7 linked regions of the Homo sapiens genome follow. The protein of the gene in region 4 purifies or fractionates together with the protein of the main gene of each other region. This does not show direct contact. Each region holds a gene or a part of one and is shown on either strand. Other genes may lie near its edges. The genes, in order: BAG1, CREB3L2, USP9X, SAV1, WRAP53, SEC16A and TIAL1.

Region 1 (3,500 bases), on a different chromosome or scaffold from region 4:
TCACAATGAGGGATAAGTGGTCTACTTATGTGCCAAACACCTTGTTCTAGGCCATTCCCAATATTCCTGACTAGGTGCAACCTCCTGGTGATTCTGGTTTTACAGCTATGGGACTACACGATCACAAGAGCAAAGAAGCCCTCATGTATCTGAAGACTGAGGGGGCCTATAAACCTGAAACTGGCCCAAGGCAAATTAGAGCTCTCACCAGCCCAAAGAAAGCACCCAGAGGTCCAAACAGCTGGGAAAATTTGGGCAGAGGTGGCCCTCTCCAGAAAAGGTGGATTGCTGGACAGTACAACCACAGAGACAGAAGGAGAAAACAGATAGGAGCTTTACTCAAAATCACAAAGACACTATTTTTCATTGAGAACCAGTGTGAGAGTAGGAAAATTGGCAAATGGCCAGTTGCCCCCAGCAGCCCTGAAGAAATCAGGTAAATTCCGCTCCAGAGACGGCAGAGCTGGTGGCGCCATTCTTCAGGGCAGCACAGCCTTTTTCTGCTACACCTCACTCGGCCAGGGCAAAGTTTGTAGACTGCAGCCGCTCAGTCTCCTGGCAGATGTTCTGCTCCACTGTGTCACACTCGGCTAGGAATGCCTAGAAAATACACACGGGGCAGTAAGGGCCCATCCAGGGGTAGCCGACCACTGCCCACACAAGGCTCCTTGCTTACCCATTCTGGGGAACCCATGGCTGAGACTCAAAACAGATTGTGCATGAATGGAGATGGGCCACTGGCCTGGGTTCCAAGGTAAGGGGAGGGAGGGAGCATAGGACCAGCATTCTGACCATGCTCTAGGCCAGCAATCCCCTAAAAGGTGGTAAAGGCAGGGAGCTTTGCCTCAGGGCCACTGCACAGCAACTGCACAATCGCAGGAAGCACTGTGTGCATGAATACTGCCTCCTGGAATTGTGTAATGTGTCAGCCCTACCTGCTCTCCAGTGAGTTCCCTCCCTAAATAGTTTAAATTCAAATATAATTACAGGGACACAGGTGGCTCTTCTCTGACGTTTGGGGTTCCTGCTGATAAATATAACCAAAACAAGCCCATACCACACACCACGCTCCTACACTACCTGATTTTGAACAGATAAACACACATACCTACACATTAACATATTACACCTTGTCGTGCACTATTACACAACTCACCTGAACCTTTTTTACCAAGCCTTTCCTTTTCAATCTACTGTCTTTGAAATTTTCTGGCAGGATCTATGGAAGAGTAAGTTGATAATACAAGTTAGTAAATAGTAAACATGTAACAAATAATCCTCAGTGAAAATGACATGAGAGCACATAAGAAACACCCACAGTACACAAAACAGGTCACAGGTCACCAATGTAAATGTGATATCCATTTTCAGGAACCCTTTCCCTGGGTCTGTATCCTGTATGGCCTTTCCATGGCTCTTGTCCCTATAAAAGCTCCCTGTGTTCTCAATGTCTGGGCCATAGGAACTGATCTTTAACACAGACTTTGTTCTTTTATTGTTTCCTATGTATGGATACTCTGCCCTGGCCACACCATGGGCTCATTGTGACAGGAAAAGTGCCTGCTGCTGCTTCTTTACACCCACCCTGGCCAACAGAAGTACACAGTGCAGTTCACCTTCAAGAATGAAGCATCAGGCTAGAGATATCATTACTATCATCTGCAAAAGAGTTAATGATTTTCAATGGCCTCACATGACCTGGGTCTGGCTGAATCATCTATAAGTAATGAGCCCTGCAGAATTATCAGTCACATATTCATCAGAGAAAGTTAAATCCTCTGTTTCCTGGACCATGAGATCGTGGACTCCTTGGGTCCCAGCTTCATGACGATTACAGATGCTACTGGCAAACATAAGTGTAAATGATAAAAGTCCTATGCTGGAGGGCTGTGAGTGCCTAGAAAGCAGGAACTGTCTTATCATCATGCATTCACCCAGGACCTAGCAACATGACTGGCACACAATAGTAGATGCTTAATATTCTCAAGTGATGGGTTTGCTCAGGCAATAGGAGAGTAAATTACTGAAAGAGTGAATGTGACTGAAATAAAGTCAAAGAAAACTAGTTCTTCTCAGCTGAATATTTACTTACCAGTGTGTCAATCTCCTCCAAGATCTTCATAAACTGCTCTATTGTGGCTTTTACTCTCCTATCAAGTTTGCAGAGAGCTTCAGCTTGCAAATCCTTGGGCAGAAAACCCTGCGGGGAAATAATGCATTATTGCAAGGGTTCTCTGAGGCTGACGGAAGACTCCATGCCACAATACTAATGATGCAATCACACTGAGCCCACCATAGCCCTGGCAGGCCAGGCCACATCTCAGATCCACAACTTTAACTCTTGGAAAAATTAAAAAGGCTGGCCGTGGGCCAGTCCAAGAATTCTATCAGGTTGCAGTCTGCTCTACCTCGCATGACCCACTGTGGCTGCAAATGCCTCCTGAGGCTTGGCTCCAGTGAAGCCCCCAGTCACAAGAAGAGGCAGATGTTAAAAGCACAGGTTTAGAGTCTTCAAAGCCTACGCCTGAAAACTGACTGCCATTTACTAACTTGTGATCTTGAGCAAATTATTTAGCCTATTCATGCCTCAGTACCCTCATTTTAAAAATGAAGATTATGATGCCCACACCCTAGATGGTTACTGTGAGGTAAAGGGAATATATGTACATGTGTCACTAACTTGTGGCACAGACGCATGCTAAAGAATGGCAGCAGTGCTTATTTTTATCAAATTGTCTAATGGTTCACTCACACAGCTTGGCCTAATGACCAGTTAGCTGGTGACAAGAGTTGGATAGCAGGGATCTCTGAGGATGTTTATCACAGCCACGAGCTACAGACACAGATTTCACAACACGTAGCAAGAGCTTTAAACATCACCCAGCAATTCCAACTCAAAGAATTTATTCTACCAAAAAAACCAGGAATGGTCAAAAAAGATTTACGTCCAAGGACAGTCAAAGAAGCATTACACATAATGGTAAAAATAATATTAAATGAACAATACAGAGTTGGCTAGGTAAATAATACATTTATACAAGATGAAATGCATGCGAGCTTTGAAAAATACCATCACAGGAAAATGTTTAATTTTTTATCCAATAAAAGAATAGTTTATAAAGTGTAAATAACATTATATCAAATTTTTTTAAGATGAAAAATATATTTCAGGCTTTGGTAATCGTCATCTCTGAGTTGGTGCCCCATGGGTAATTTTTATTTTCCATATTAGTGCCTATACATGTACTTAAAACTTTTGTACAGTCAGCATGTATTCTGTAATTAAAACACAAACATATAGGCCGGGCGCAGTGGCTCATGCCTGTAATCCCAGCACTTTGGGAGGCCGAGGCGGGCAGATCACTTGAGGTCAGGAGTTTGAGACCAGTCTGGCCAACATGGTGAAACCCCATCTCTATTAAAAATACAAAAAAATCAGACAGATGTGGTGGCAGGCGGCACCTGTAATCCCAGCTACTCGGGAGGCTGAGGCAGGAGAA
Region 2 (2,804 bases), on a different chromosome or scaffold from region 4:
GCCACAAAAATGCCATAATGCCTGTTGGTATTTGGCAAAGCACTGACCCGTGTCCTCCGTTGCTCGCACTGGGGTCTCTGGTGTGAACACCCCCGACAGCAGCCCTCCGCCCACTCTGCCCCCTGGGAGCCCTCGCTGGATCGTCTCGTCTCCTGCAGCAGCACTGGCAGGCGAGGGCTCTCGTTCATATTCTCAGGCCGCAAGTGCAATGCCTGAGGGGATCAGGCTTTTCTACTCCAGGCAAACCTGCCCCATCTTGTCGCTTTTAGGACCTCCCACAACCTGGTTCCCCACACATCCATAGTTCTGCCTCCCCAGCTTCTCCTCCCCAGTTGTAAATAGTATTTATTAGCTTGCCGAGGCTTCCTGCTAGCAACCACACTGAAGAGATCGATGCCTCCTTTCAAGCTAGCCAAGTTTTCTGCGAGCCTTCAGAGCTAGGAGGGCACCCTAGGCTCTGGGATCCCGTGTCTTTCCAGACAATGTTTTGTTTCCTTTCCTTTGTTTTTTCTTTTAACTGGAATAATTACCATTGAAAAAGAAGTTCCTTTGAGCATGTATGTGTCTGCCTCTAGGATGAGCTCAGAGCGAGAGATGACACAATGCCTCACTCAGGCCCCGGGCTCCCTGGCCACAAGCTTTTTCTATCCTGTTTTCATGACAGAGAAGGGGAAGCCCTGTTCTGACAACAGACATTTCAGACAACCTTGCTGGCTTTCCACACCTGCCTGGCCCCCTCCTCCCTCCACACTTCCACTTTGTCCTCCTCGTCCCCTACCTCAACAAAGCAGGGTGGGGTAGGTGACATTTGTGTATCCACATTCTTACCTTTGGTAGTCAGGTTTGGCTACTTTGCAGCTCGCCCAAAGAGATACAACCTAATCCCCAACCTACTTTTAGTTTTTTTGTTTTTTTTTTATGGTTAAAAGTAACTTTTGTAGTTTAAAAAAATCTTTCCTCTTTCATATAAATAAGAAGTGGAAATTGCCTTTTTATTGTGTAATGTAGAAAACCCTCAAGTGTTTTTTCCGAGCTTGGGAAAGATTTTGTGTAGGAAATGTGCATAGAGTTTGTATTTTATTTTTATTAGCAGCTGAAATGCCTTTGGTTTTGGCTTCTCTCTCTCCCTCTCTCTCTCTGTCTCTCCTTCTCTCTCTCCCCCCACCACCCACCCCCACACACGTCATCTGCATTGTTATTGGAGCCTGTACTTAGAGGGATTAAGCCCACACCCTGGCTTCCATTCCATATCAGGTACAGGATTTGATGTTATTAACATTTGTCGTCATACCTCATAAGTCGGTCCCTGCCTTGTCTGTCTAGGCCCATTTGGGGCTCCCTGTGAGTGATTCCCCTCTCTCTGCTATGCTGGAGACGGTTCCAGCCTGGAAAGCGGCCAAGTTCATCTTCTCACTGTGAGTGGAAGCTGGATCGGGCCCCCGTAGTCCTGGCAGCCCTGTTGTCTGGAGGGTTCTTGTTGTCCCTCCCATTAGCCAGGGCGGAGACTGTCTGAGCTGTGCAGGAGGAGGGTTGCTAGTAGGTTCTGCTTCTGCTTCTCTCTGCTCCACTGTCTGCAGCCCAGATCCTGTTGGGCCTGGCTGGTGTCTGGTAACCATGGGCCTCCACTGACCCATCCCTCTCTTTTAAACTGTCAGGTCATTATCAGGCATAGGCAGCCTATAGGGCCCAAAGAAGGCAAAAAGATAAGATTTACTCAAGTAGCATTTGGGCAATGAGGAAGGAAAGGTTTCAAATTTAGGGGCAGAAGTGAGAGAATGAGCCAACCCATGTACCTGCTGCAACTGAACCAGACTGGGTTTTCAAGGCTCCCAGACGTAGAGTAGGAAACGTGCTCTTCTAAATGAGGAGGGAGAAGATAAAGGAAACTTCTAGCCCCTGTCCTTAGTGCTTTGAGGATTTTATTTTCTCCCTTACTACGCTTGCTTGACGTCACTCTCTCTCGACCTCCAAACAGCAGGACTCTTTCTCTGGGAAACCATCCTTCCAAAACGGAATCTATGTAGACAATGGGACGTTAGGCAGAGAGCTCAGATGGCCCTTTTAAGGGGGCTCCAAGAACCAACATCACTGCTCTTTTAGATAAACCTCTGCCCTCCACTCCTTGCTTGAGTGGGTTAAAGGAACTAACAGTTGTCCCTTTAGGAGGACAAAATGGGGTCAAGAGGACACAGAAGAGTTGTATAGCACCAGATTGGTTCCAAATAGTTAATGGATGTGTGCACATTTTCTGTTCAGGGATTAAGACCAGAATATCAGTGGATTTGTTTTCCCCACCAAGTGGCCTCTTAGACTAGTCATTAACTTATGATTAGCTCTAAAGATTTCAAATAGTGGCAGACAGTGTCTTCTGAATGTAAGTTTTGAGAAATACGAGTCTGTCAGAGCGGCCATAAGCCATAAAGAGTCAATCTCTTAATTATATTTTTCATCATGTAAACAAGTTTCCCATTTCCCTTTCTTAGATTGCACCAGTGAAGGAGATGTTTTGCAAAGATTCAGAGAACTAATTTTTCACTGGATAAGACCTGAGTAACCCAGACCCCCCACCGTGGTTCTTTTCACAGCCCTCGACTTTGCACTTAAAAAGGGATATTGTAAATGAAAGGCTGCAGTGCCAGTTTTAAGAAAGAATTTCTGTGAAGTGTGAGGACTCTGGAGTCTAGCTCACATAAAGAGAGTGTTATATAAAAATCCGACAGCTGAACTAGGTTGCTCTTTTTTGGCAGGGAGTGGGGATGAGATTTGACACCAATATGGGCAAAATTAGATAACCTTTTGGTTAA
Region 3 (3,500 bases), on a different chromosome or scaffold from region 4:
GGACATGTACCCTAGAACTTAAAGTATAATTTAAAAAAAAAAGGCAAATGTAGTTTACATTAAGTCCATAACTAAAATGTTTACAAAACTAAGGGATAAATCCTTTTTTTAAATCGTTTTTAGGTACGAATGTGAAGAATCTTTTACGACCCTAAACGTAGACATTAGAAATCACCAAAATCTTCTTGATTCTTTGGAACAGTATGTCAAAGGAGATTTACTAGAAGGTGCAAATGCATATCATTGTGAAAAATGCAATAAAAAGGTACGGGCTGTCCAGTTTTGTTTAATTTTGATTACATTTAATGGATTTAGAAGAAATTGGTTTTTTTGGTTCATCCTCACAAGTCACCCTATTTTTATTTTCTCCTACTTTGGTATAGTGGTAGCAGAGAAGTAGTCAATATGATAACTAATAGAAGGTTTGGCAAGGAAGGAAAAAAAGTAGTGCCAAAGGGGCTAGGTAAATAAGATAAAAATAGGTAAATAAGAGTGAATAATTTTAAAAGTCATAACGTGATAGCACATTCTCTTATATAAGTTACACAGACACTTTCCATCTCTACCGAGAAACAAATTGCCATTGAACCCCTCAAAGATACAGAGCTGATAGAGGAAAACATTTCTCCTGTCATGTCCAGGATTACTTGTCAAGACCAAAACATTTGCTGAAACCATTAATTACTTTATTGAACCACATAAGATTTCTTTTAGACTAGTCAAGTGGCCCATAAGATTTCTTTTATCACCTATGTTATAAAACCATTTATTTTGGAAACTTATTAGCAGTTCTTTGAGAGAGATGATTCACACGCATTATAGTAATGAATAAGGTGTATCTTTGGGAGCTCCCAAACCCTTTCACCCTCAAGTCACTTGTGTTGTTTTGGCCTTATGCACCACTTAGAGAAGTCCTGAAGTTTAAAGATTGAGATTGTGGGCTGTAAAGCCATACTGCCTGCCACCTGCAGCTCCTGAGACCTGAGGCAAGTTACTTGACCTCTCTGTGATTACTAGTTTTCATCTTTTAAGGTTCAGTAGTACACACTTGAGAAGGTTGTAAGGATTCGGTATGTTTTTACTTGTGCGGCACTTAGTATATATTACCTGGCATCTGAATTACCCAACAAATATTAGCTACTCTTATTGTTATTGTAGTTCTTTGGTTTGTGCATAGGAAACCACCTTCGTGGGAACAACAGTAAACATCAAACAGGTAATAATGGCTAGATAACAATGACAGAAACCAGTCAACAATTTACCATTTGCATATTATTAATTTCAGCATTTAAATCAGCTGATAGGATTATCTTGATTATGCTCATTGTCATGTATTTGTTTATACTTAAAAATTCAGATAAGTCTTAATATCATTTAAAAGTTTGCTTGGGGTTTTTTTTTTTTTCCTGTGGATTTTAATAGAACATCTGGTAACTTTGTCTTGTTTATTTTAGGTTGATACCGTAAAGCGCTTGCTGATTAAAAAATTACCTCCTGTTCTTGCTATACAACTAAAGCGATTTGACTATGACTGGGAAAGAGAATGTGCAATCAAGTTCAATGATTATTTTGAATTTCCTCGAGAGCTGGACATGGAACCTTACACAGTTGCAGGTGTCGCAAAGCTGGAAGGGGATAATGTAAACCCAGAGAGTCAGTTGATACAACAGAGTGAGCAGTCTGAAAGTGAGACAGCAGGAAGCACAAAATACAGACTTGTGGGTGTGCTCGTACACAGTGGTCAAGCGAGTGGGGGGCATTATTATTCTTACATCATCCAAAGGAATGGTGGAGATGGTGAGAGAAATCGCTGGTATAAATTTGATGATGGTGATGTAACAGAATGTAAAATGGATGATGACGAAGAAATGAAAAACCAGTGTTTTGGTGGAGAGTACATGGGAGAAGTGTTTGATCACATGATGAAGCGTATGTCATACAGGCGCCAGAAAAGGTGGTGGAATGCTTATATACTTTTTTATGAACGAATGGACACAATAGACCAAGATGATGAGTTGATAAGATATATATCAGAGCTTGCTATCACCACCAGACCTCATCAGATTATTATGCCATCAGCCATTGAGAGAAGTGTACGGAAACAGAACGTACAATTCATGCATAACCGAATGCAGTACAGTATGGAGTATTTTCAGTTTATGAAAAAACTGCTTACATGTAATGGCGTTTACTTAAACCCTCCTCCCGGTGAGTATCAAGAGAGTTTAGCTTCTTAGTAATAAAGAATAATTTATAGTAGGCGTCAACATGTTTAAGTTCATAAAATTAATGTTTTCACTTTAAATGAGTCTAATTTGCTGGGTGTGGTGGTTCACGCCTGTAATCCCAGCACTTTGGGAGGCCGAGGTAGGTGGATCACCTGAGGTCAAGAGTTCAATACCAGCCTGACCAACATGGTGAAACCCCATCTCTACTAAAAATATAAAAATTAGCCAGGCATGGTGGCATGCACCTGTAGTCCCAGCTACTCCCTGTAGTCCCAGCTACTCCGGAGGCTGAGGCAGGAGAATCGCTTGAACCTGGGAGGTGGAGGTTGCAGTGACCCAAATTGATGGCCACTGCACTCCAGCCTGGGTGACAGTGAGTCTCCATCTCAAAAAAATAAAATAAAAAAATAAATGGGTCTAAATTAAAGTAGCCTGAGAAGGGTTCTTAACAAATTTAGGACTTCTCAAAATTAATGGAAACACAGACTTGTTTGAAAATGGGGTTGGAAAATAAAAATGTGTTTTTATATCTGCATTTTATTTATAGGGCAAGATCACCTGTTGCCTGAAGCAGAAGAAATCACTATGATCAGTATTCAACTTGCTGCTAGGTTCCTCTTTACTACAGGATTTCACACAAAGAAAGTAGTCCGTGGCTCTGCCAGTGATTGGTACATTGCTTTGGATTTTCATTCCTATTATACTAATGTTTGGTTTGCTTCTTTAATAGATTGCTTTATGTTTTTCTAAACCAAGAGAATTTTGTTTGAAGTTTGGAATATAGAATAAAAACTCTGGGTCACAATAGAGAAATCATATTAAAATAGTTACTTAGTCTAAACATGGCCTTTTGTTATTCAGAAGCTGACTTCTGCTTCTATTACCTTGTATCATATCTTTGACATCCCTGCACCAAAGACTACAAGCTGAGACTGGGGGACAGTGACTCACACCTGTAATGCCAGCACTTTGGGAAGCCAGGGTGGGAGGATTGCTTGAGCTCGGGAGTTCAGGACCAGCCTAGGCAACATAGTGAGACCCCCATCTCTTCAAAGAAGATTTTAAAAATTACCCAAGTATGGTGGCGCACACCTGTAATCCCAGCTACTCGGAAGGCTGAGGTGGGAGGATCGCTGGAGCCTGGGAGGTTGAAGCTGCAGTGAGCCATGACTGTGCCACTGCACTCCAGCCTGGGCAGCAGAGCAAGACCCTGTCTCAAACAAAACCAAAGATTACAAGATGAGACTGAAAAGTGTAAGCTACTTATGAAAT
Region 4 (3,500 bases):
TATAGAAAGACACATAGACCAATGGAACAAAAATAGGTAATGCAGAAATAAATCCACATATTTACAGCCAACTGATTTTTTTACAAAAGCACCAAGAACGTGCATTGGGAAAAGGACACTTTCTTCAATAAACGATGCTGGGAAAATTGGATATCCACATGCAGAAGAATGAAATCTGACCCTTGTCTCACCATATGCAAATTCAACTTGAGATGGATTAAAGACTTAAGACCTGAAATTATAAAAGTACTAGAAGAAAATGTAGGGGAAACACTTCAGGACATCGATCTAACAAAGATTTTATGGCTAAGACCTCAAAAGCACAGGCAACAAAAACAAATAGACATATGGGACTATATTAAACCAAAAGGCGTCTGCACAGTAAAGGAAACAACAGAATGAAGAGACAACATATTGAATAGGAGAAAGTGTTTGCAAAAGATTCATCCAGCAAGGGACTAATATCCAGAATATGCAAGGAAGCCAACAGTAAGAAAAACAACCCCATTAAAAAGTGGGCAAAGGACATGAATAGACGTTTCTCAAAAGAAGACATACAAATGGCCAAAAGGTATGTGAAAAAATGTGCAACATCACTAATCGTCAAGGAAATGTAAGTGAAAACCACAGTGAGGTGTCTTACCCCAGTCAGAATGGCTATTGTTAAAAAGACAAAAAAATATACTACTGGTGAGAGTGTGAAGAAAAGGCAACTGTTACAGACTGTTGGTGGGAATGTTACAATAATTAGGACAGGCACTATGAAAAACAGTTTGGAAATTTCTCAGAAAACCGAAAACAGAACTACCATATGATCCGGCAGTTCCACTGCTGGGTATCTATCTAAAGGAAAAGAAATCAGTATATCAAAGAAATACCTGCACTCCCATGTTTATCATGTCATTTGCAGCAGCTTGAATGGAACTGGAGGTCATTATATTAAGGGAAATCAGGCACAGAAAGAGAAGTGTCTCATGTTCTTACTCACATGTGGGAGCGAAACACATTGATTTCATGGAGATAGAATGATAGCAGAGGTTGGGAAGGATGGGAGGGGAGGTAAAGAGAGGTAGGTTAATGGGTCCAAACATAAAGTTAGATGGAATAAGTTCTAAGGTTTGATAGCAGAGTAGGGTAACTACAGTTAACATTTTGAAATAGCTAAAAGAGAGGACTTGAAATGTTCCCAACACATAGAAATGATAAATACTCACGGTGATGGATACCCTAAATACCCTGACTTGATTATTTCATACTCTTTGCATGTATCACAATATCACATGTACCCCATAAACATGTGCAAATAATTATGTATCCAAAAAATGCTATAAAACAATGTTACCACCTGACTGGGCTCTTGTCTGCTATCCGAATAGAGCAGAACACTGAGACAGCAGATACTGTAAAGAAGAAAGAGTTTAATTATTGCAAGGCAGCTGAGTAAGGAGGATGGGAAATGTTTCTCAGAGTCATCACCGCCAAGACTGGAGAAGCTAAGATATTTAAAGATGATTTGGCAGGCAGGGGGCTAGGGGATGGGTGCTGGTGATTGGACTGGTATGAGATCATAGGGTTATCAATGCTGTCTTCATGTGCTGAATCAGTTGCTGGGAAATTGGGGAGTCACAAGACCAAGTCAGTTCCTTGGTTGAGTTCATGGAACACTGGTCCATTTGGTGTCAGTTGGTCCACTTGTAAGCAAAGTCTGAAAAATATCTCGAAGACCAGTCTTAGGTTTTACAGTAGTGTTTGTGACTGCCAGTTACTATGGAAAGAAAGCTGGGAAAAAATGGCAGGTTACTGTTTAAACCTATAGCTTAGCAGAAGAGTTTGCAGGAGGTGAGATCACCAGTGATCAAAGTGGCCTGGCCTGTTTGGCCAGTCCAAATTCTGGAAACTATCAAGGGGGTCTGTGTGATCTAGGATCATTGTTTTCTTGTTCTTCTCTTCTATTTTCTTTTTTGAGACAGGATCTTGCTCTGTTGCCCGGGCTGTAGTGCAGTAGCATGATCACAGCTCACTGCAGCCTCGACCTCGGGCTCAAGCAATCCTCCCACCTCAGCCTCCTGAGTAGCTGGGACTACAGGCATGCACCACCACACCTGGCTAATTTTTTGTATTTTTAGTAGAGACTGAATTTCAGTGTTGCCCAGGCTGGTCAAACTCCCAAGCTCAAGCAATCTGCCTGCCTTGGCCTCCCAAAGTGCTGGGATTACAGGCATGTGCCGCAGCACCCAGTCTGGATTATTGTTCTTTAAAAGAAACAGGTTTGTTAATCTTATGGGCAGCCTGCCCAGGGGCTGCCACAGGAAGACAATTATTAGTGACTGCCATTTGTTGAAATGACTTTGCAAGCAGTCATACATGGAGGTGGAAAAAGAGAAGGAAAATATTTTATCAAAATTCGGGCCCCTACCGTAATTTTAATCTTGAGGGTGTTTTTAATTTTATGAGGGAGGCTTCAGCAGGAGTCAGCAAGCTACACCCATAGGCCAGATAGACTTGCCTCCTGCAATACAGTAGTTTTATTGGAACACACATGCACTGAAATAAGATTTGATTTCATGGAATAGCCAAGACCTTGTTTTAATGAGACAGTAGACTTCTGCCTTCGAAGTCTCATCCCAGGCTCTTTTATATCAGATTGCGTTAGGTTTAAAGAAGGTTGCAGGTAGTTGAAGAATCTCAGGTAATAAGGTATCTCTCCCAACCAAAAAAAAAAAAAAAAAAAAATTCTTTACAGCAGTTGATACACTGCTTGAGAGCTTGAGAGACTTCATTTGATAAGATTAATTTTTATCAGGGCAATATAGATTTAATGTTTTACCTTGTAGAAAAAAGTAGTACTTTTTTTGAAGGAATCTCTAAAGTTGCAGGGAAAGATTAATAACCAATTACATGCCAAACAGAAAAGCCTAATAACTGCCTCTTCCACAAGGGAAAAATCTGAATATGAGACAGTAGCTGAAAGTTTCTTGAATTCACCTTGAGAAGACTTAAAACATATTTTTAGGATTTATGCTGAATAAGGTTCAAGGAATTTGAATGAATAGAAAGGAGAAAGTAAGTTTGTAGGAGGATAGGATAGGTTTGTGCGATAGATCTATTTTCAGAAACATTGAATTTTGATTGTCATAAGCATAAAAAGGTTGGAAAATTTGTTTTGTAATGACTTAATGGCAATAGTAATTCCTGTCAATTAGTTATTAGATTTTCAGGAAACACCTTGTGTCAAGGGTTAAATTCAGCTTATTGTATTTAGTAGAAGCACAAAAACAAGTTGTATAATCTCAGAAAGTTTTAGAGCCTAGAAAGTTCTACGTTTAGCTGTAGAACTTTCAGATTAGAAAATTTGACCTTTAATGTTCTTGGCCGCATACCAGTCACGCACTTACTGTATGTTCCAAAGAAAGGAATCCTGCTGTTAACAGGAAGTCTTTAGTTGGAATACTAAAGGCAGACTGAATTCCTTTGTTTTGCGCTTAAATTTTAGTTCTGTC
Region 5 (2,763 bases), on a different chromosome or scaffold from region 4:
CCAAGCACTTCAGGAGGCCAAGGCAGGTGGATCACCTGAGGTCAGTTCGAGACCAGCCTGGCCAACGTGGTGAAACCCCATCTCTATGAAAAATACACAATTAGCTGGGTGTGGTGGTGCACACCTGTAATCCCAGCTACTCAGGAGGCTGAGGCAGGAGAATCACTTCAACCTGGGAGGCGGAGGTTGCAGTGAGCTGAGACTGCATCACCGCCCTCCAGCCTGGGTGACAGAGGGAGACTCAATCTAAAAAAAAAAAAAGGAAGGGGAGGAAGCCAACTGACCAGCCCCTCTGATAAGCATGCCAAGCCTTCCTCCTCCAAAGACCCCTGGCAGCCCTTGACTCTCCCAAGAGGCCCTGCTTGAAACTGGGTGGTGGGGCGGCGAGCAGGGAGGCAAACATTACTTACTAGGAGGTGTCTGGCTGGGCTGAGGACATCAGAGAATACCAGCAGTAATCATAGATGGTATCACCTTCCACCATTCGAAGGACAGGGACCTATACAGAGACGGGGGAATGGCTGAGTCACTCGGAGGGAAAAGGAGTCTGAGGCGCGTGCCTCTAGCAGTGTTGTGGCAGATGGGGTGTATATATGGAGCACAGACTCTGTCTCAATGTTCAAGGGTGAGCTCAGACTTTAATGTCAAATTTAGCCACCAAAAGCCATATAGATTCATACTTTTTTTTTTTTATTATTTTGAGACAGAGCATGCACCACCATGCCTGGCTAATTTTGTTTTTGTTTTTTTTTTTAATAGAGACAGGGTTTCACCATGATGTTGGCCAGGCTGGTCTCAAACTTCTGACCTCAGGTGATCCACCCGCCTCAGCCTCCAAAAGTGCTGGGATTACAGGTGTGAGCCACCGTGCCGGGCCTTATACTTTTTCTTTATAAACACTTAGAGAGGAAGAAACAAATAATAATACCTCAACCCAGAGACAAAGAACCAACCAATTATTCAAATACTTACTGAGTACATGCTAGGTGCCATTTGATCCTTTAAAAAAATATTAGTACAAAAATTTGCCAGGCGTGGTGGTGGACACCTGTAATCCCAGATACTCAGGAGGCTGAGGCAGGAGAATCCCTTGAACCCAGGAGACAAAGGTTGCAGTGAGCTGAGATCGCACCACTGCACTCCACCCTAGGTGACAGAGAGACAGTGCCCCCCAAAAAAAAAAGAAAAAGAAAAGAAAAAAATTATCGGCTGAGCACAGTGGCTCACACCTGTAATCCCAGCACTTAGGGAGGCTGAGGCAGGCAGATCACTTGAGCCCAGGAGTTCAAGACCAGCCTGGGCAATATGGTGAAACACTGTCTCTACAAGAAAAAAAAATTAGCTGGGCATGGTAGTGCATGCCTGTAGTCCCAGCTACTAGGGAGGCTGAGGCATGAGAATTGCTTGAGCCCAGGAGATAGAGACCACAGTGAGCTGAGATCATTGCCACTGCACTCCAGCCTGGGCAACAGAAACACTGTCTCAAAAATACAAAAATGGAAACAAAAAAACCTCCTTACAAAAATAAAGAAAAAAAATTAAACAGTTCAAACATACAAAGTATCTTATTAAAAAAACAGCCCTGTGACCCCTCCATCCAGCTGAACAAAAAGATATGTTTAAACCCCTTTCCTAACAGAAACTCTCCCTCAGAGGTAAACACTATCTTGAATTTATCACTGTCATACATTTCCTTAGGAATATATATATATATATAAATATATATATATATATATAAATATATATATATATATATATATATAAATATATATATATATATAAATATATATATATATATAAATTTTTTTTTTTTAATTTTAAAGGCAGAGTCTCACTCTGTCACCCAGGCTGAGTGCAGTGGCACGATCTCAGTTCACTGCAACCTCCACCTCCCAGGTTCAAGCAATTCTTGTGTCTCAGCCTCCCGAGTAGCTGGGATTGCAGGAGTTCACCTCCATGCTCAGCTAATTTTTTGTATTTTTAGTATAGACAGGGTTTCGCCACGTTGGCCAGGCTGGTCTCGAACTCTTGGCCTCAAGTGATCTTTCTGCCTCAGCCTCCCAAAGTGCTGGGATTACAGGTGTGAGCCACTGCGCCCAGCCTAGGAGTATATTCATATGGGAAAAAAAACAGTATCTAACGTTGTCTTGCAGGTCTTTAGACTTAATTTTTTCTTTTCTTAGAGACAGGGTCTTACTCTGTTGCCTAGGCTGGAGCACAGTGGCGCAATCATCTCACTGAAACCTCAAACTCCTGGGCTCAAGCAAACAATCCCCTGGCCTCAGCCTCCCTAGTAACTGGGAATATAAGCATAAGCCACCATACCTGGCTTATTTATTTATTTATTTATTTATTTATTTATTTTTGACGGAGTCTCGCTCTGTCGCCCAGGCTGGAATGCAGTGGCACAATCTTGGCTCACTGCAACCTCTGCCTCCCAGACTCAAGCAATTCTCTGCCTCAGCCTCCTGAGTAGCTACGATTACAGGCGCCTGCTATCACGCCCGGCTAATTTTTTTGTATTTTTAGTAGAGACGGGGTTTCACCATCTTGGCCAGGCTGGTCTTGAACTCCTGACCTCGTGATCCACCCACCTCAGTCTCCCAAGTGCTGGGATTACAGGCATGAGACACCACGCCCAGCCTGCCCGGCTAATCTTTAAAATTATTTTTTTGTAGAAACAGGGGTCTGTGTTGCTCACGCTGGTCTAAAACTCCTGGCCTCAAGCAATCCAGCCACCTCAGCCTTTCAATGCACTGGGAT
Region 6 (3,500 bases), on a different chromosome or scaffold from region 4:
GTGCCCCGCTAGAAGCAGACTCAGGAGCTTCAGGAGCTCTGGCGATGTTTTTCCAAGGGGGAGAGACAGAAAATGAGGAGAATCTCTCATCTGAAAAAGCAGGCTTATCTGGTCAAGCGGACTTTGACGATTTCTGCTCCAGCCCTGGGCTAGGCCGTCCGCCCGCACCTACACACGTGGGGGCAGGCAGCCTCTGCCAGGCCCTTCTCCCAGGCCCCAGCAATGAGGCTGCTGGTGATGTGTGGGGTGACACAGCGAGCACAGGGGTGCCGGATGCCAGCGGCTCGCAGTATGAGAATGTTGAGAACTTAGAATTTGTTCAGAATCAAGAAGTTCTGCCAAGTGAGCCCCTCAATTTGGACCCTTCCTCCCCGAGTGACCAGTTCAGATATGGGCCCCTTCCTGGGCCAGCTGTGCCCAGGCATGGTGCTGTGTGCCACACCGGAGCCCCTGATGCCACACTGCATACAGTGCACCCTGACAGCGTGTCATCCAGCTATAGCAGCAGAAGCCACGGAAGGCTCTCAGGCTCAGCCAGGCCCCAGGAGCTGGTTGGCACATTCATTCAGCAAGAAGTTGGAAAACCCGAGGATGAAGCTTCAGGTAGTTTTTTTAAGCAAATCGATTCTTCTCCCGTAGGAGGTGAAACAGACGAGACCACTGTGAGCCAGAATTACCGTGGCAGCGTGTCCCAGCCCTCAACCCCGAGCCCCCCGAAACCTACAGGAATATTTCAGACAAGTGCAAATAGTTCTTTCGAACCGGTAAAATCTCACTTAGTTGGGGTAAAACCATTTGAGGCAGATCGCGCCAACGTGGTTGGTGAAGTAAGGGAGACCTGTGTCCGCCAGAAGCAGTGCAGACCAGCTGCCGCCCTGCCCGATGCTTCCCCTGGCAACCTGGAGCAGCCACCAGACAACATGGAGACCCTCTGTGCACCCCAGGTCTGTCCCCTGCCTCTTAACTCCACCACGGAAGCTGTGCACATGCTTCCGCACGCAGGGGCACCGCCCTTGGATACTGTGTATCCAGCACCCGAGAAGAGGCCTTCAGCCAGGACCCAGGGGCCCGTGAAGTGTGAGAGCCCAGCAACGACTCTGTGGGCGCAAAGTGAGCTGCCAGATTTTGGAGGCAACGTCCTTCTGGCCCCTGCAGCCCCGGCGCTTTATGTGTGTGCAAAACCTCAGCCACCTGTTGTTCAGCCTCCAGAAGAGGCGATGTCCGGGCAGCAGTCACGGAACCCAAGCTCGGCGGCCCCGGTGCAGAGCCGAGGTGGCATTGGTGCTTCTGAGAACCTTGAGAATCCTCCCAAAATGGGAGAGGAGGAGGCCCTTCAGTCCCAGGCGAGTTCTGGTTATGCAAGTTTATTATCCTCACCGCCCACTGAGTCTCTGCAGAATCCTCCAGTCTTGATTGCTCAGCCTGATCACAGCTATAATCTGGCTCAGCCCATTAACTTTTCTGTGTCCTTATCGAACTCTCATGAGAAGAATCAGTCCTGGAGAGAGGCTTTGGTGGGGGATAGACCTGCAGTCAGCAGTTGGGCTCTCGGTGGTGATTCTGGGGAGAACACTTCTTTGTCTGGGATTCCAACCAGCTCTGTCCTTAGCTTGTCTCTGCCTAGCAGTGTTGCCCAAAGTAATTTTCCACAAGGTTCTGGTGCTTCCGAAATGGTTTCTAATCAGCCTGCTAATTTGCTGGTTCAACCACCATCCCAGCCAGTTCCAGAGAACTTGGTTCCAGAAAGTCAAAAGGATCGTAAGGCAGGAAGTGCTCTTCCCGGATTTGCTAATAGCCCTGCTGGAAGCACAAGTGTGGTGTTAGTTCCACCTGCACACGGCACCCTGGTGCCTGATGGTAATAAGGCAAACCATTCCAGTCATCAGGAAGACACTTACGGAGCCCTAGACTTTACCTTAAGCAGGACTTTGGAAAATCCTGTAAACGTGTACAACCCGTCCCATTCTGACAGCCTCGCTTCTCAGCAAAGTGTTGCCAGTCATCCCAGACAATCTGGGCCTGGGGCGCCTAACCTTGACCGTTTTTATCAGCAGGTCACGAAAGATGCCCAGGGCCAGCCTGGCCTCGAAAGAGCCCAGCAGGAGCTGGTGCCACCCCAGCAACAGGCTTCTCCCCCACAACTACCCAAAGCCATGTTTTCGGAGCTGTCAAATCCAGAAAGTCTGCCCGCACAGGGACAGGCCCAGAACTCAGCACAGTCACCAGCAAGTCTGGTTCTGGTCGACGCGGGTCAGCAGCTGCCCCCTCGGCCTCCTCAGTCCTCTAGCGTGTCTCTGGTGTCCAGTGGCTCCGGCCAGGCAGCTGTGCCGTCAGAGCAGCCGTGGCCACAGCCAGTGCCTGCACTTGCCCCCGGCCCACCGCCTCAGGACCTGGCCGCCTACTACTACTACCGGCCTTTGTACGATGCCTACCAGCCTCAGTACTCTTTGCCGTACCCACCGGAGCCTGGCGCAGCCTCCCTCTATTACCAGGTAAGAGTCGAGTCGTATGTGTAACCCACTTTTCTGTCTGTGCTTTGACCAGTTGAGTCTCACTCACAGTGTATTCCTTAGTAGTGTTTGTTCGCTTGGTTCCGGGGTCACCCACAGTCCCGCAGGCGTGAGAACAGTATTCCAGTAACGCTTCCTGAGGACAGGGCTCCCGGCTCCAGAACCTACTCTCCCAAGCACAGGCCACCCTTAGTTCACACCACGCGTTAGCATCTTGAATTGCTTATAATACTTGCTTAGGATTTGAACCAGCCTCCCCAGCTTATGTGACAAAAAGAGCCCTCCATTTGCTGTCACCCCTGCTCCTGCTGGCTGTCTGCAGAAAAGTTCTGTCTTGCATGCCTTGGGAAGCTGGGCTAGCCTCTGGAAGCTTACGTCAGAAGCATTGGGTATAACCATAGTCCTTTAAATGCCCCTGGAGAATAAAAACATGGAGAGAAAATAGTTTTGGAGCATGAGCCACACGCATCAGCTAAGCGAGGCGGAGTCCCGCAAGCTGCTGTCAGCACGTGGTGGTGCGGGCAGCGGCTCGGGGACCGGCTGTGCTCGTGCAGAAGATTCTTCTGTGCCTCTTTTTCACAGGGACACCAGCTCATGAGTGACATTTGAGTTAGGTTCCGCATAATCCTGCAGTCGTTCGAAAAGTGTCTGTGTACACATTTGATCATTATCTGCTTTTCCTACCCTCTAACCCAGTTCAACATACACCGATTGGGTTCACCGATTCAGTGTCACCCCAGGTAGAAGGATTGTGTGATAGGGAATTGGAAAACCATGGTCTTGCGGTATGTAAGGCCAGTTGGAACCAGACTTGGGGCCACACAGGAAGGCCTTGCAGTCAGAAGGGGGCCCGCCCCGAGGAGCAAGGCTGCCGTGGCTTGCTGGGTACTGCCCCGGGGAATGGGGCTGGGCCTCCCCCATGGGCCTCGAGCATCATGGTTTGTGTGCGTGTGACCAGGTGCACACCTGACCCCTCAGACCTGTGTAGGT
Region 7 (3,500 bases), on a different chromosome or scaffold from region 4:
GCTGGGATTACAGGCGTGAGCCACCATGCCTGGTCACTTGTTCATTTTTCTTACAGATAGGTCTACTCTGTACAAAAAGAAATCATTTCAGAGATACAGGCTCACAAACCCCTATGAGTTAAGAAGGGGCAAGCAGCCTATCGCTGGCTCATAACCCAATAACCTTTTAGTCCTGCTGGAAAAAGTATGTCACTACATTGGCCTGCTGATGGATCAGCTCCTTAATTACGTGGAAAAGGTGGCATAGTGGACGTAAAACAGTTTGTCACTTGTTTAGTCCTCTAGTTAGGTAATATTGGATGTGTGTTTCAATTTTAGAGCAGGTACACTAAGATTATTAGTACTCATTGCAATAAAATTCTTAACTGGAAAATCGCTACTAATTCTTAATTGGATCTTTTAAGTTTTTTACTTAACCTAAGCTTTCTCAGTCTATTTTTCCCTTTGAGTATTCCATCTTAAAGCATGTTGTGTATTTAATGTGGCAGCTATGTTGCAAGTCTTATTTTGGTCTTAATACTCAGTTTCCAGATGTAATATATTACAAGTAGAAAAAGAAATCTACTTTCCAGAATGAACTTTGTTAAATTTTACAGATATTGTTTGGTTTATGAGGTTGTTCATAACAGATGCAAATTTGAGGAATTATGTGTAGAATACCAGAAAGACTTTAGTGTTTGGCAATTTATTTAGATAAATTAAGATAAATCCATAGTACAAGACATAAACCAAGGTGGTCCTCTCTGTGTGATGAAGTAGCATTTTTTTCTTTTCTTTTTTAAACTTTCCTGTATTTAAAATCTTTTACACAAAACACATTCAATTGTAATTAGGAAAAAAAACCCAAATTTTTAAGTGTCCATAGTCAAAAGTATGCCTGGATTTGTCTTAGTTTTTCTCTGAATTTCTTAAGAAATCTTTGTATTAGCTTTTTTATCTACATTAAGATATATTTTGTTGGCTGGGCATGGTGGCTCACTCCTGTAATCCCAGCACTTTGGGAGACTCAGGCAGGTGGATCACTTGAGGTTAGGAGTTTGAGACCAGCCAGGCCAACATGGTGAAACCCCGTCTCTACTAAAAATACAAAAATTAGCCGGGCGTGGTGGTGCACGCCTGTAGTCCCAGCTACCTGGGAGGCTGAGGCAGGAGAATCGCTTGAACCTGGGAGGCGGAGGTTGCAGTGAGCTGAGATCATGCCACTGCACTCCAGCCTGGGTGACAGAGTGAGACTCCATCTCAAAAAAATACATATATATTTTGTTGATTCTGATGCATTTTAGACTAGGAAATTTTATATTTTACCCTGCTCTCCTAAAATGAAACAGTGAAGACATCATTGCAAACAACCTTACTCAGCCAAAAACAAAACAACAAAAACCCTCCACCCTCTGTATGTTTTACTATAACTTTAATTCTGTTCTTTGTTCATGTAATTGCTTTGGTTGGGAATCTAAGATAAACTCACTTTATGTTTAATATCCTATTACAATCAGATGTTTTAATGAATTAGTATTTGTTGTATGTGTGTGTGTGTTATAAATTATTTTTAATTAGAAATTGTAGTTATCTTGAGACCAGTTTAAAATTTTAACAATTAGAATAAGATGAGAAAATGATATCCAGGGTACAGAATAATAATGCCATTGGGGTATACAAGATCACATTGATTTGTTCTTTAAATGTCTTTCAGAGTGGTATTTTAGTGGCCTAAGAACAATTGTTGCTTTCCTAAATAAGGGTTAATCTTACTTTCATAGGATCAGGTTTAATTGGAGAAATTTTGTTGAAAACAGAGGAAGTTAAAATGAAATAAAAGGTGGCCGGGCGCAGTGGCTCACGCTTGTAATTCCAGCACTTTGGGAGGCCAAGGCGGACAGATCACCTGAGGTCAGGAGTTCAAGACCAGCCTGACCAATACGATGAAACCCTGTCTCTACTAAGAATACAAAAATTAGCCAGGCATGGTGGCATGCGCCTGTAATCCCAGCTACTTGGGAGGCTGAGACAGGAAAATCGTTTGAATCTGGGAGGCGGAAGTTGCAGTGAGCTGAGATCATGCCATTGCACTCCAGCCTGGGCAACAAGAGCAAAACTCCATCTAAAAAAAAAAGAAAGAAAGAAAGAAAGAAAGAAAAGGTGATGAATTAGATGATAACACATTAGAGCCAGAGCTAAAGGAAAAATTGCTGATAACGTATTTTTTTCTTGTGCAGATACGTAGGTAACCTTTCCAGAGATGTGACAGAAGTCCTTATACTTCAGTTGTTCAGTCAGATTGGACCCTGTAAAAGCTGTAAAATGATAACAGAGGTAAGATCTTCCCAGTTCCATGTGCTGACAATTAGCATGATGGGTTGATTAGCATGATTTTAAAATTTCATTGTAAGCCTCAAGTTATTCTGGTGGAGAGATTTGTGTTGTGTTGACTTATTACTTTGATTTGGCTGACAAACTAGGCTTAGAATGGAGTTTTATTTAAGAGGGCAAAGTTTCCGTGCTGTTAAGCTCAAACGGTCATTCTTCATGGTGTGGTTATCTTGAAGTGATTCTGCTTTCAGAACATTATTAGAGCTCATTTCAGAATGGTGAAAAATTGGAAAGTATTTCATACAATTCCAATAAGAATGTTAACGATTTAGACAGCATGTGTTCATGTGCGAGAACACGAAGTTATTATGTGTGTAGTGTGCAGCACCGTTCGTCTCGTGTGTCTGTAGCAAATACTTACCTTTTTATACTTTCCTGCTAAGACTGTAGCAGCACCCAATTAGTCATGTTTTAGGCTTTTCTTCCTTGTGTTTTTGTTCATTGATCAGCTTTCTTTTTTTTTTTTGGACTATTTCCTATGTACTAGATACTGCAGTAAGTGCTAGAGATACACTGGTGAATAAAGATAGTTCCTTGGCCCAGAGAATTTTACAGTTTAGTAGGGAGACAAAGGAGTTAGCAGGCACTTAGGAAGTAGGATAATAAATGCTCTAGAAGCAGACAACTTAAAGTGCTGTGGGAGCAAATGTGTATCCAGTGCAGCCTTAGGTCAGTGAGCGGCTTCTTGGAGGACTCACTGCCTAGGCGGAAACCTTGAAAGGATAGTAGTACATACTGGCTAGAAAGGAATTGAGGGAAGAAGGGATTCCAAATAAAGGGAACTTTGATCCAGGTTGGTAGGGAGAGCAGGAGTGCTTGAGACAGAGAGGGAAAAATAGAACCCGTAGCATGGTTGTAGTTAAAATGGAATTAGTCGTAAGAGATGGCAGGAGTTTATGGAAAGGGCTAGAAACTGTGCTAAAGAGTTTGTTTTATCCTGAAACGGAGAACTGTTAAAAACCTTTAAAGTGCATTGGCCTTTTGATTGTCTTTCCCAAGTAATGACAATCATCATTTTGTTCTGGTGTATTATATTTTTCCTTCCTGCCTTTAATTATTTATTTGTGCTTTCATCGATCAAAAATTTCCTTTGCACTAGGCACTATACAAGGTACTGGAGATATAATGGA

The links.
Region 1: the proteins of SAV1 (region 4) and BAG1 purify together in Homo sapiens (affinity purification with mass spectrometry; 3 studies listed by BioGRID and IntAct, with this or other methods). This does not show direct contact.
Region 2: the proteins of SAV1 (region 4) and CREB3L2 purify together in Homo sapiens (co-immunoprecipitation; one large-scale study listed by IntAct). This does not show direct contact.
Region 3: the proteins of SAV1 (region 4) and USP9X purify together in Homo sapiens (affinity purification with western blotting; one study listed by BioGRID). This does not show direct contact.
Region 5: the proteins of SAV1 (region 4) and WRAP53 purify together in Homo sapiens (co-immunoprecipitation; one large-scale study listed by IntAct). This does not show direct contact.
Region 6: the proteins of SAV1 (region 4) and SEC16A purify together in Homo sapiens (affinity purification with mass spectrometry; 2 studies listed by BioGRID and IntAct, with this or other methods). This does not show direct contact.
Region 7: the proteins of SAV1 (region 4) and TIAL1 purify together in Homo sapiens (affinity purification with mass spectrometry; 2 studies listed by BioGRID and IntAct, with this or other methods). This does not show direct contact.

Annotation. Positions count from the first base shown.
Region 1 is NC_000009.12:33,254,709-33,258,208, forward strand, and holds part of BAG1 (BAG family molecular chaperone regulator 1), read right to left. Parts: intron 2,201-3,500; coding exon 2,093-2,200; intron 1,220-2,092; coding exon 1,157-1,219; intron 601-1,156; coding exon 511-600; 3' UTR 1-510. UniProt on the Homo sapiens protein: Co-chaperone for HSP70 and HSC70 chaperone proteins. Acts as a nucleotide-exchange factor (NEF) promoting the release of ADP from the HSP70 and HSC70 proteins thereby triggering client/substrate protein release.
Region 2 is NC_000007.14:137,877,283-137,880,086, reverse strand, and holds part of CREB3L2 (cyclic AMP-responsive element-binding protein 3-like protein 2), read left to right. Parts: 3' UTR 1-2,804. UniProt on the Homo sapiens protein: Transcription factor involved in unfolded protein response (UPR).
Region 3 is NC_000023.11:41,214,445-41,217,944, forward strand, and holds part of USP9X (ubiquitin carboxyl-terminal hydrolase 9X), read left to right. Parts: intron 1-123; coding exon 124-265; intron 266-1,454; coding exon 1,455-2,208; intron 2,209-2,775; coding exon 2,776-2,899; intron 2,900-3,500.
Region 4 is NC_000014.9:50,658,307-50,661,806, reverse strand, and holds part of SAV1 (protein salvador homolog 1), read left to right. Parts: intron 1-3,500. UniProt on the Homo sapiens protein: Regulator of STK3/MST2 and STK4/MST1 in the Hippo signaling pathway which plays a pivotal role in organ size control and tumor suppression by restricting proliferation and promoting apoptosis.
Region 5 is NC_000017.11:7,698,477-7,701,239, reverse strand, and holds part of WRAP53 (telomerase Cajal body protein 1), read right to left. Parts: intron 500-2,763; coding exon 411-499; intron 1-410. UniProt on the Homo sapiens protein: RNA chaperone that plays a key role in telomere maintenance and RNA localization to Cajal bodies. Specifically recognizes and binds the Cajal body box (CAB box) present in both small Cajal body RNAs (scaRNAs) and telomerase RNA template component (TERC).
Region 6 is NC_000009.12:136,473,041-136,476,540, reverse strand, and holds part of SEC16A (protein transport protein Sec16A), read left to right. Parts: coding exon 1-2,492; intron 2,493-3,500. UniProt on the Homo sapiens protein: Acts as a molecular scaffold that plays a key role in the organization of the endoplasmic reticulum exit sites (ERES), also known as transitional endoplasmic reticulum (tER).
Region 7 is NC_000010.11:119,586,965-119,590,464, reverse strand, and holds part of TIAL1 (nucleolysin TIAR), read left to right. Parts: intron 1-2,216; coding exon 2,217-2,313; intron 2,314-3,500. UniProt on the Homo sapiens protein: RNA-binding protein involved in alternative pre-RNA splicing and in cytoplasmic stress granules formation. Shows a preference for uridine-rich RNAs.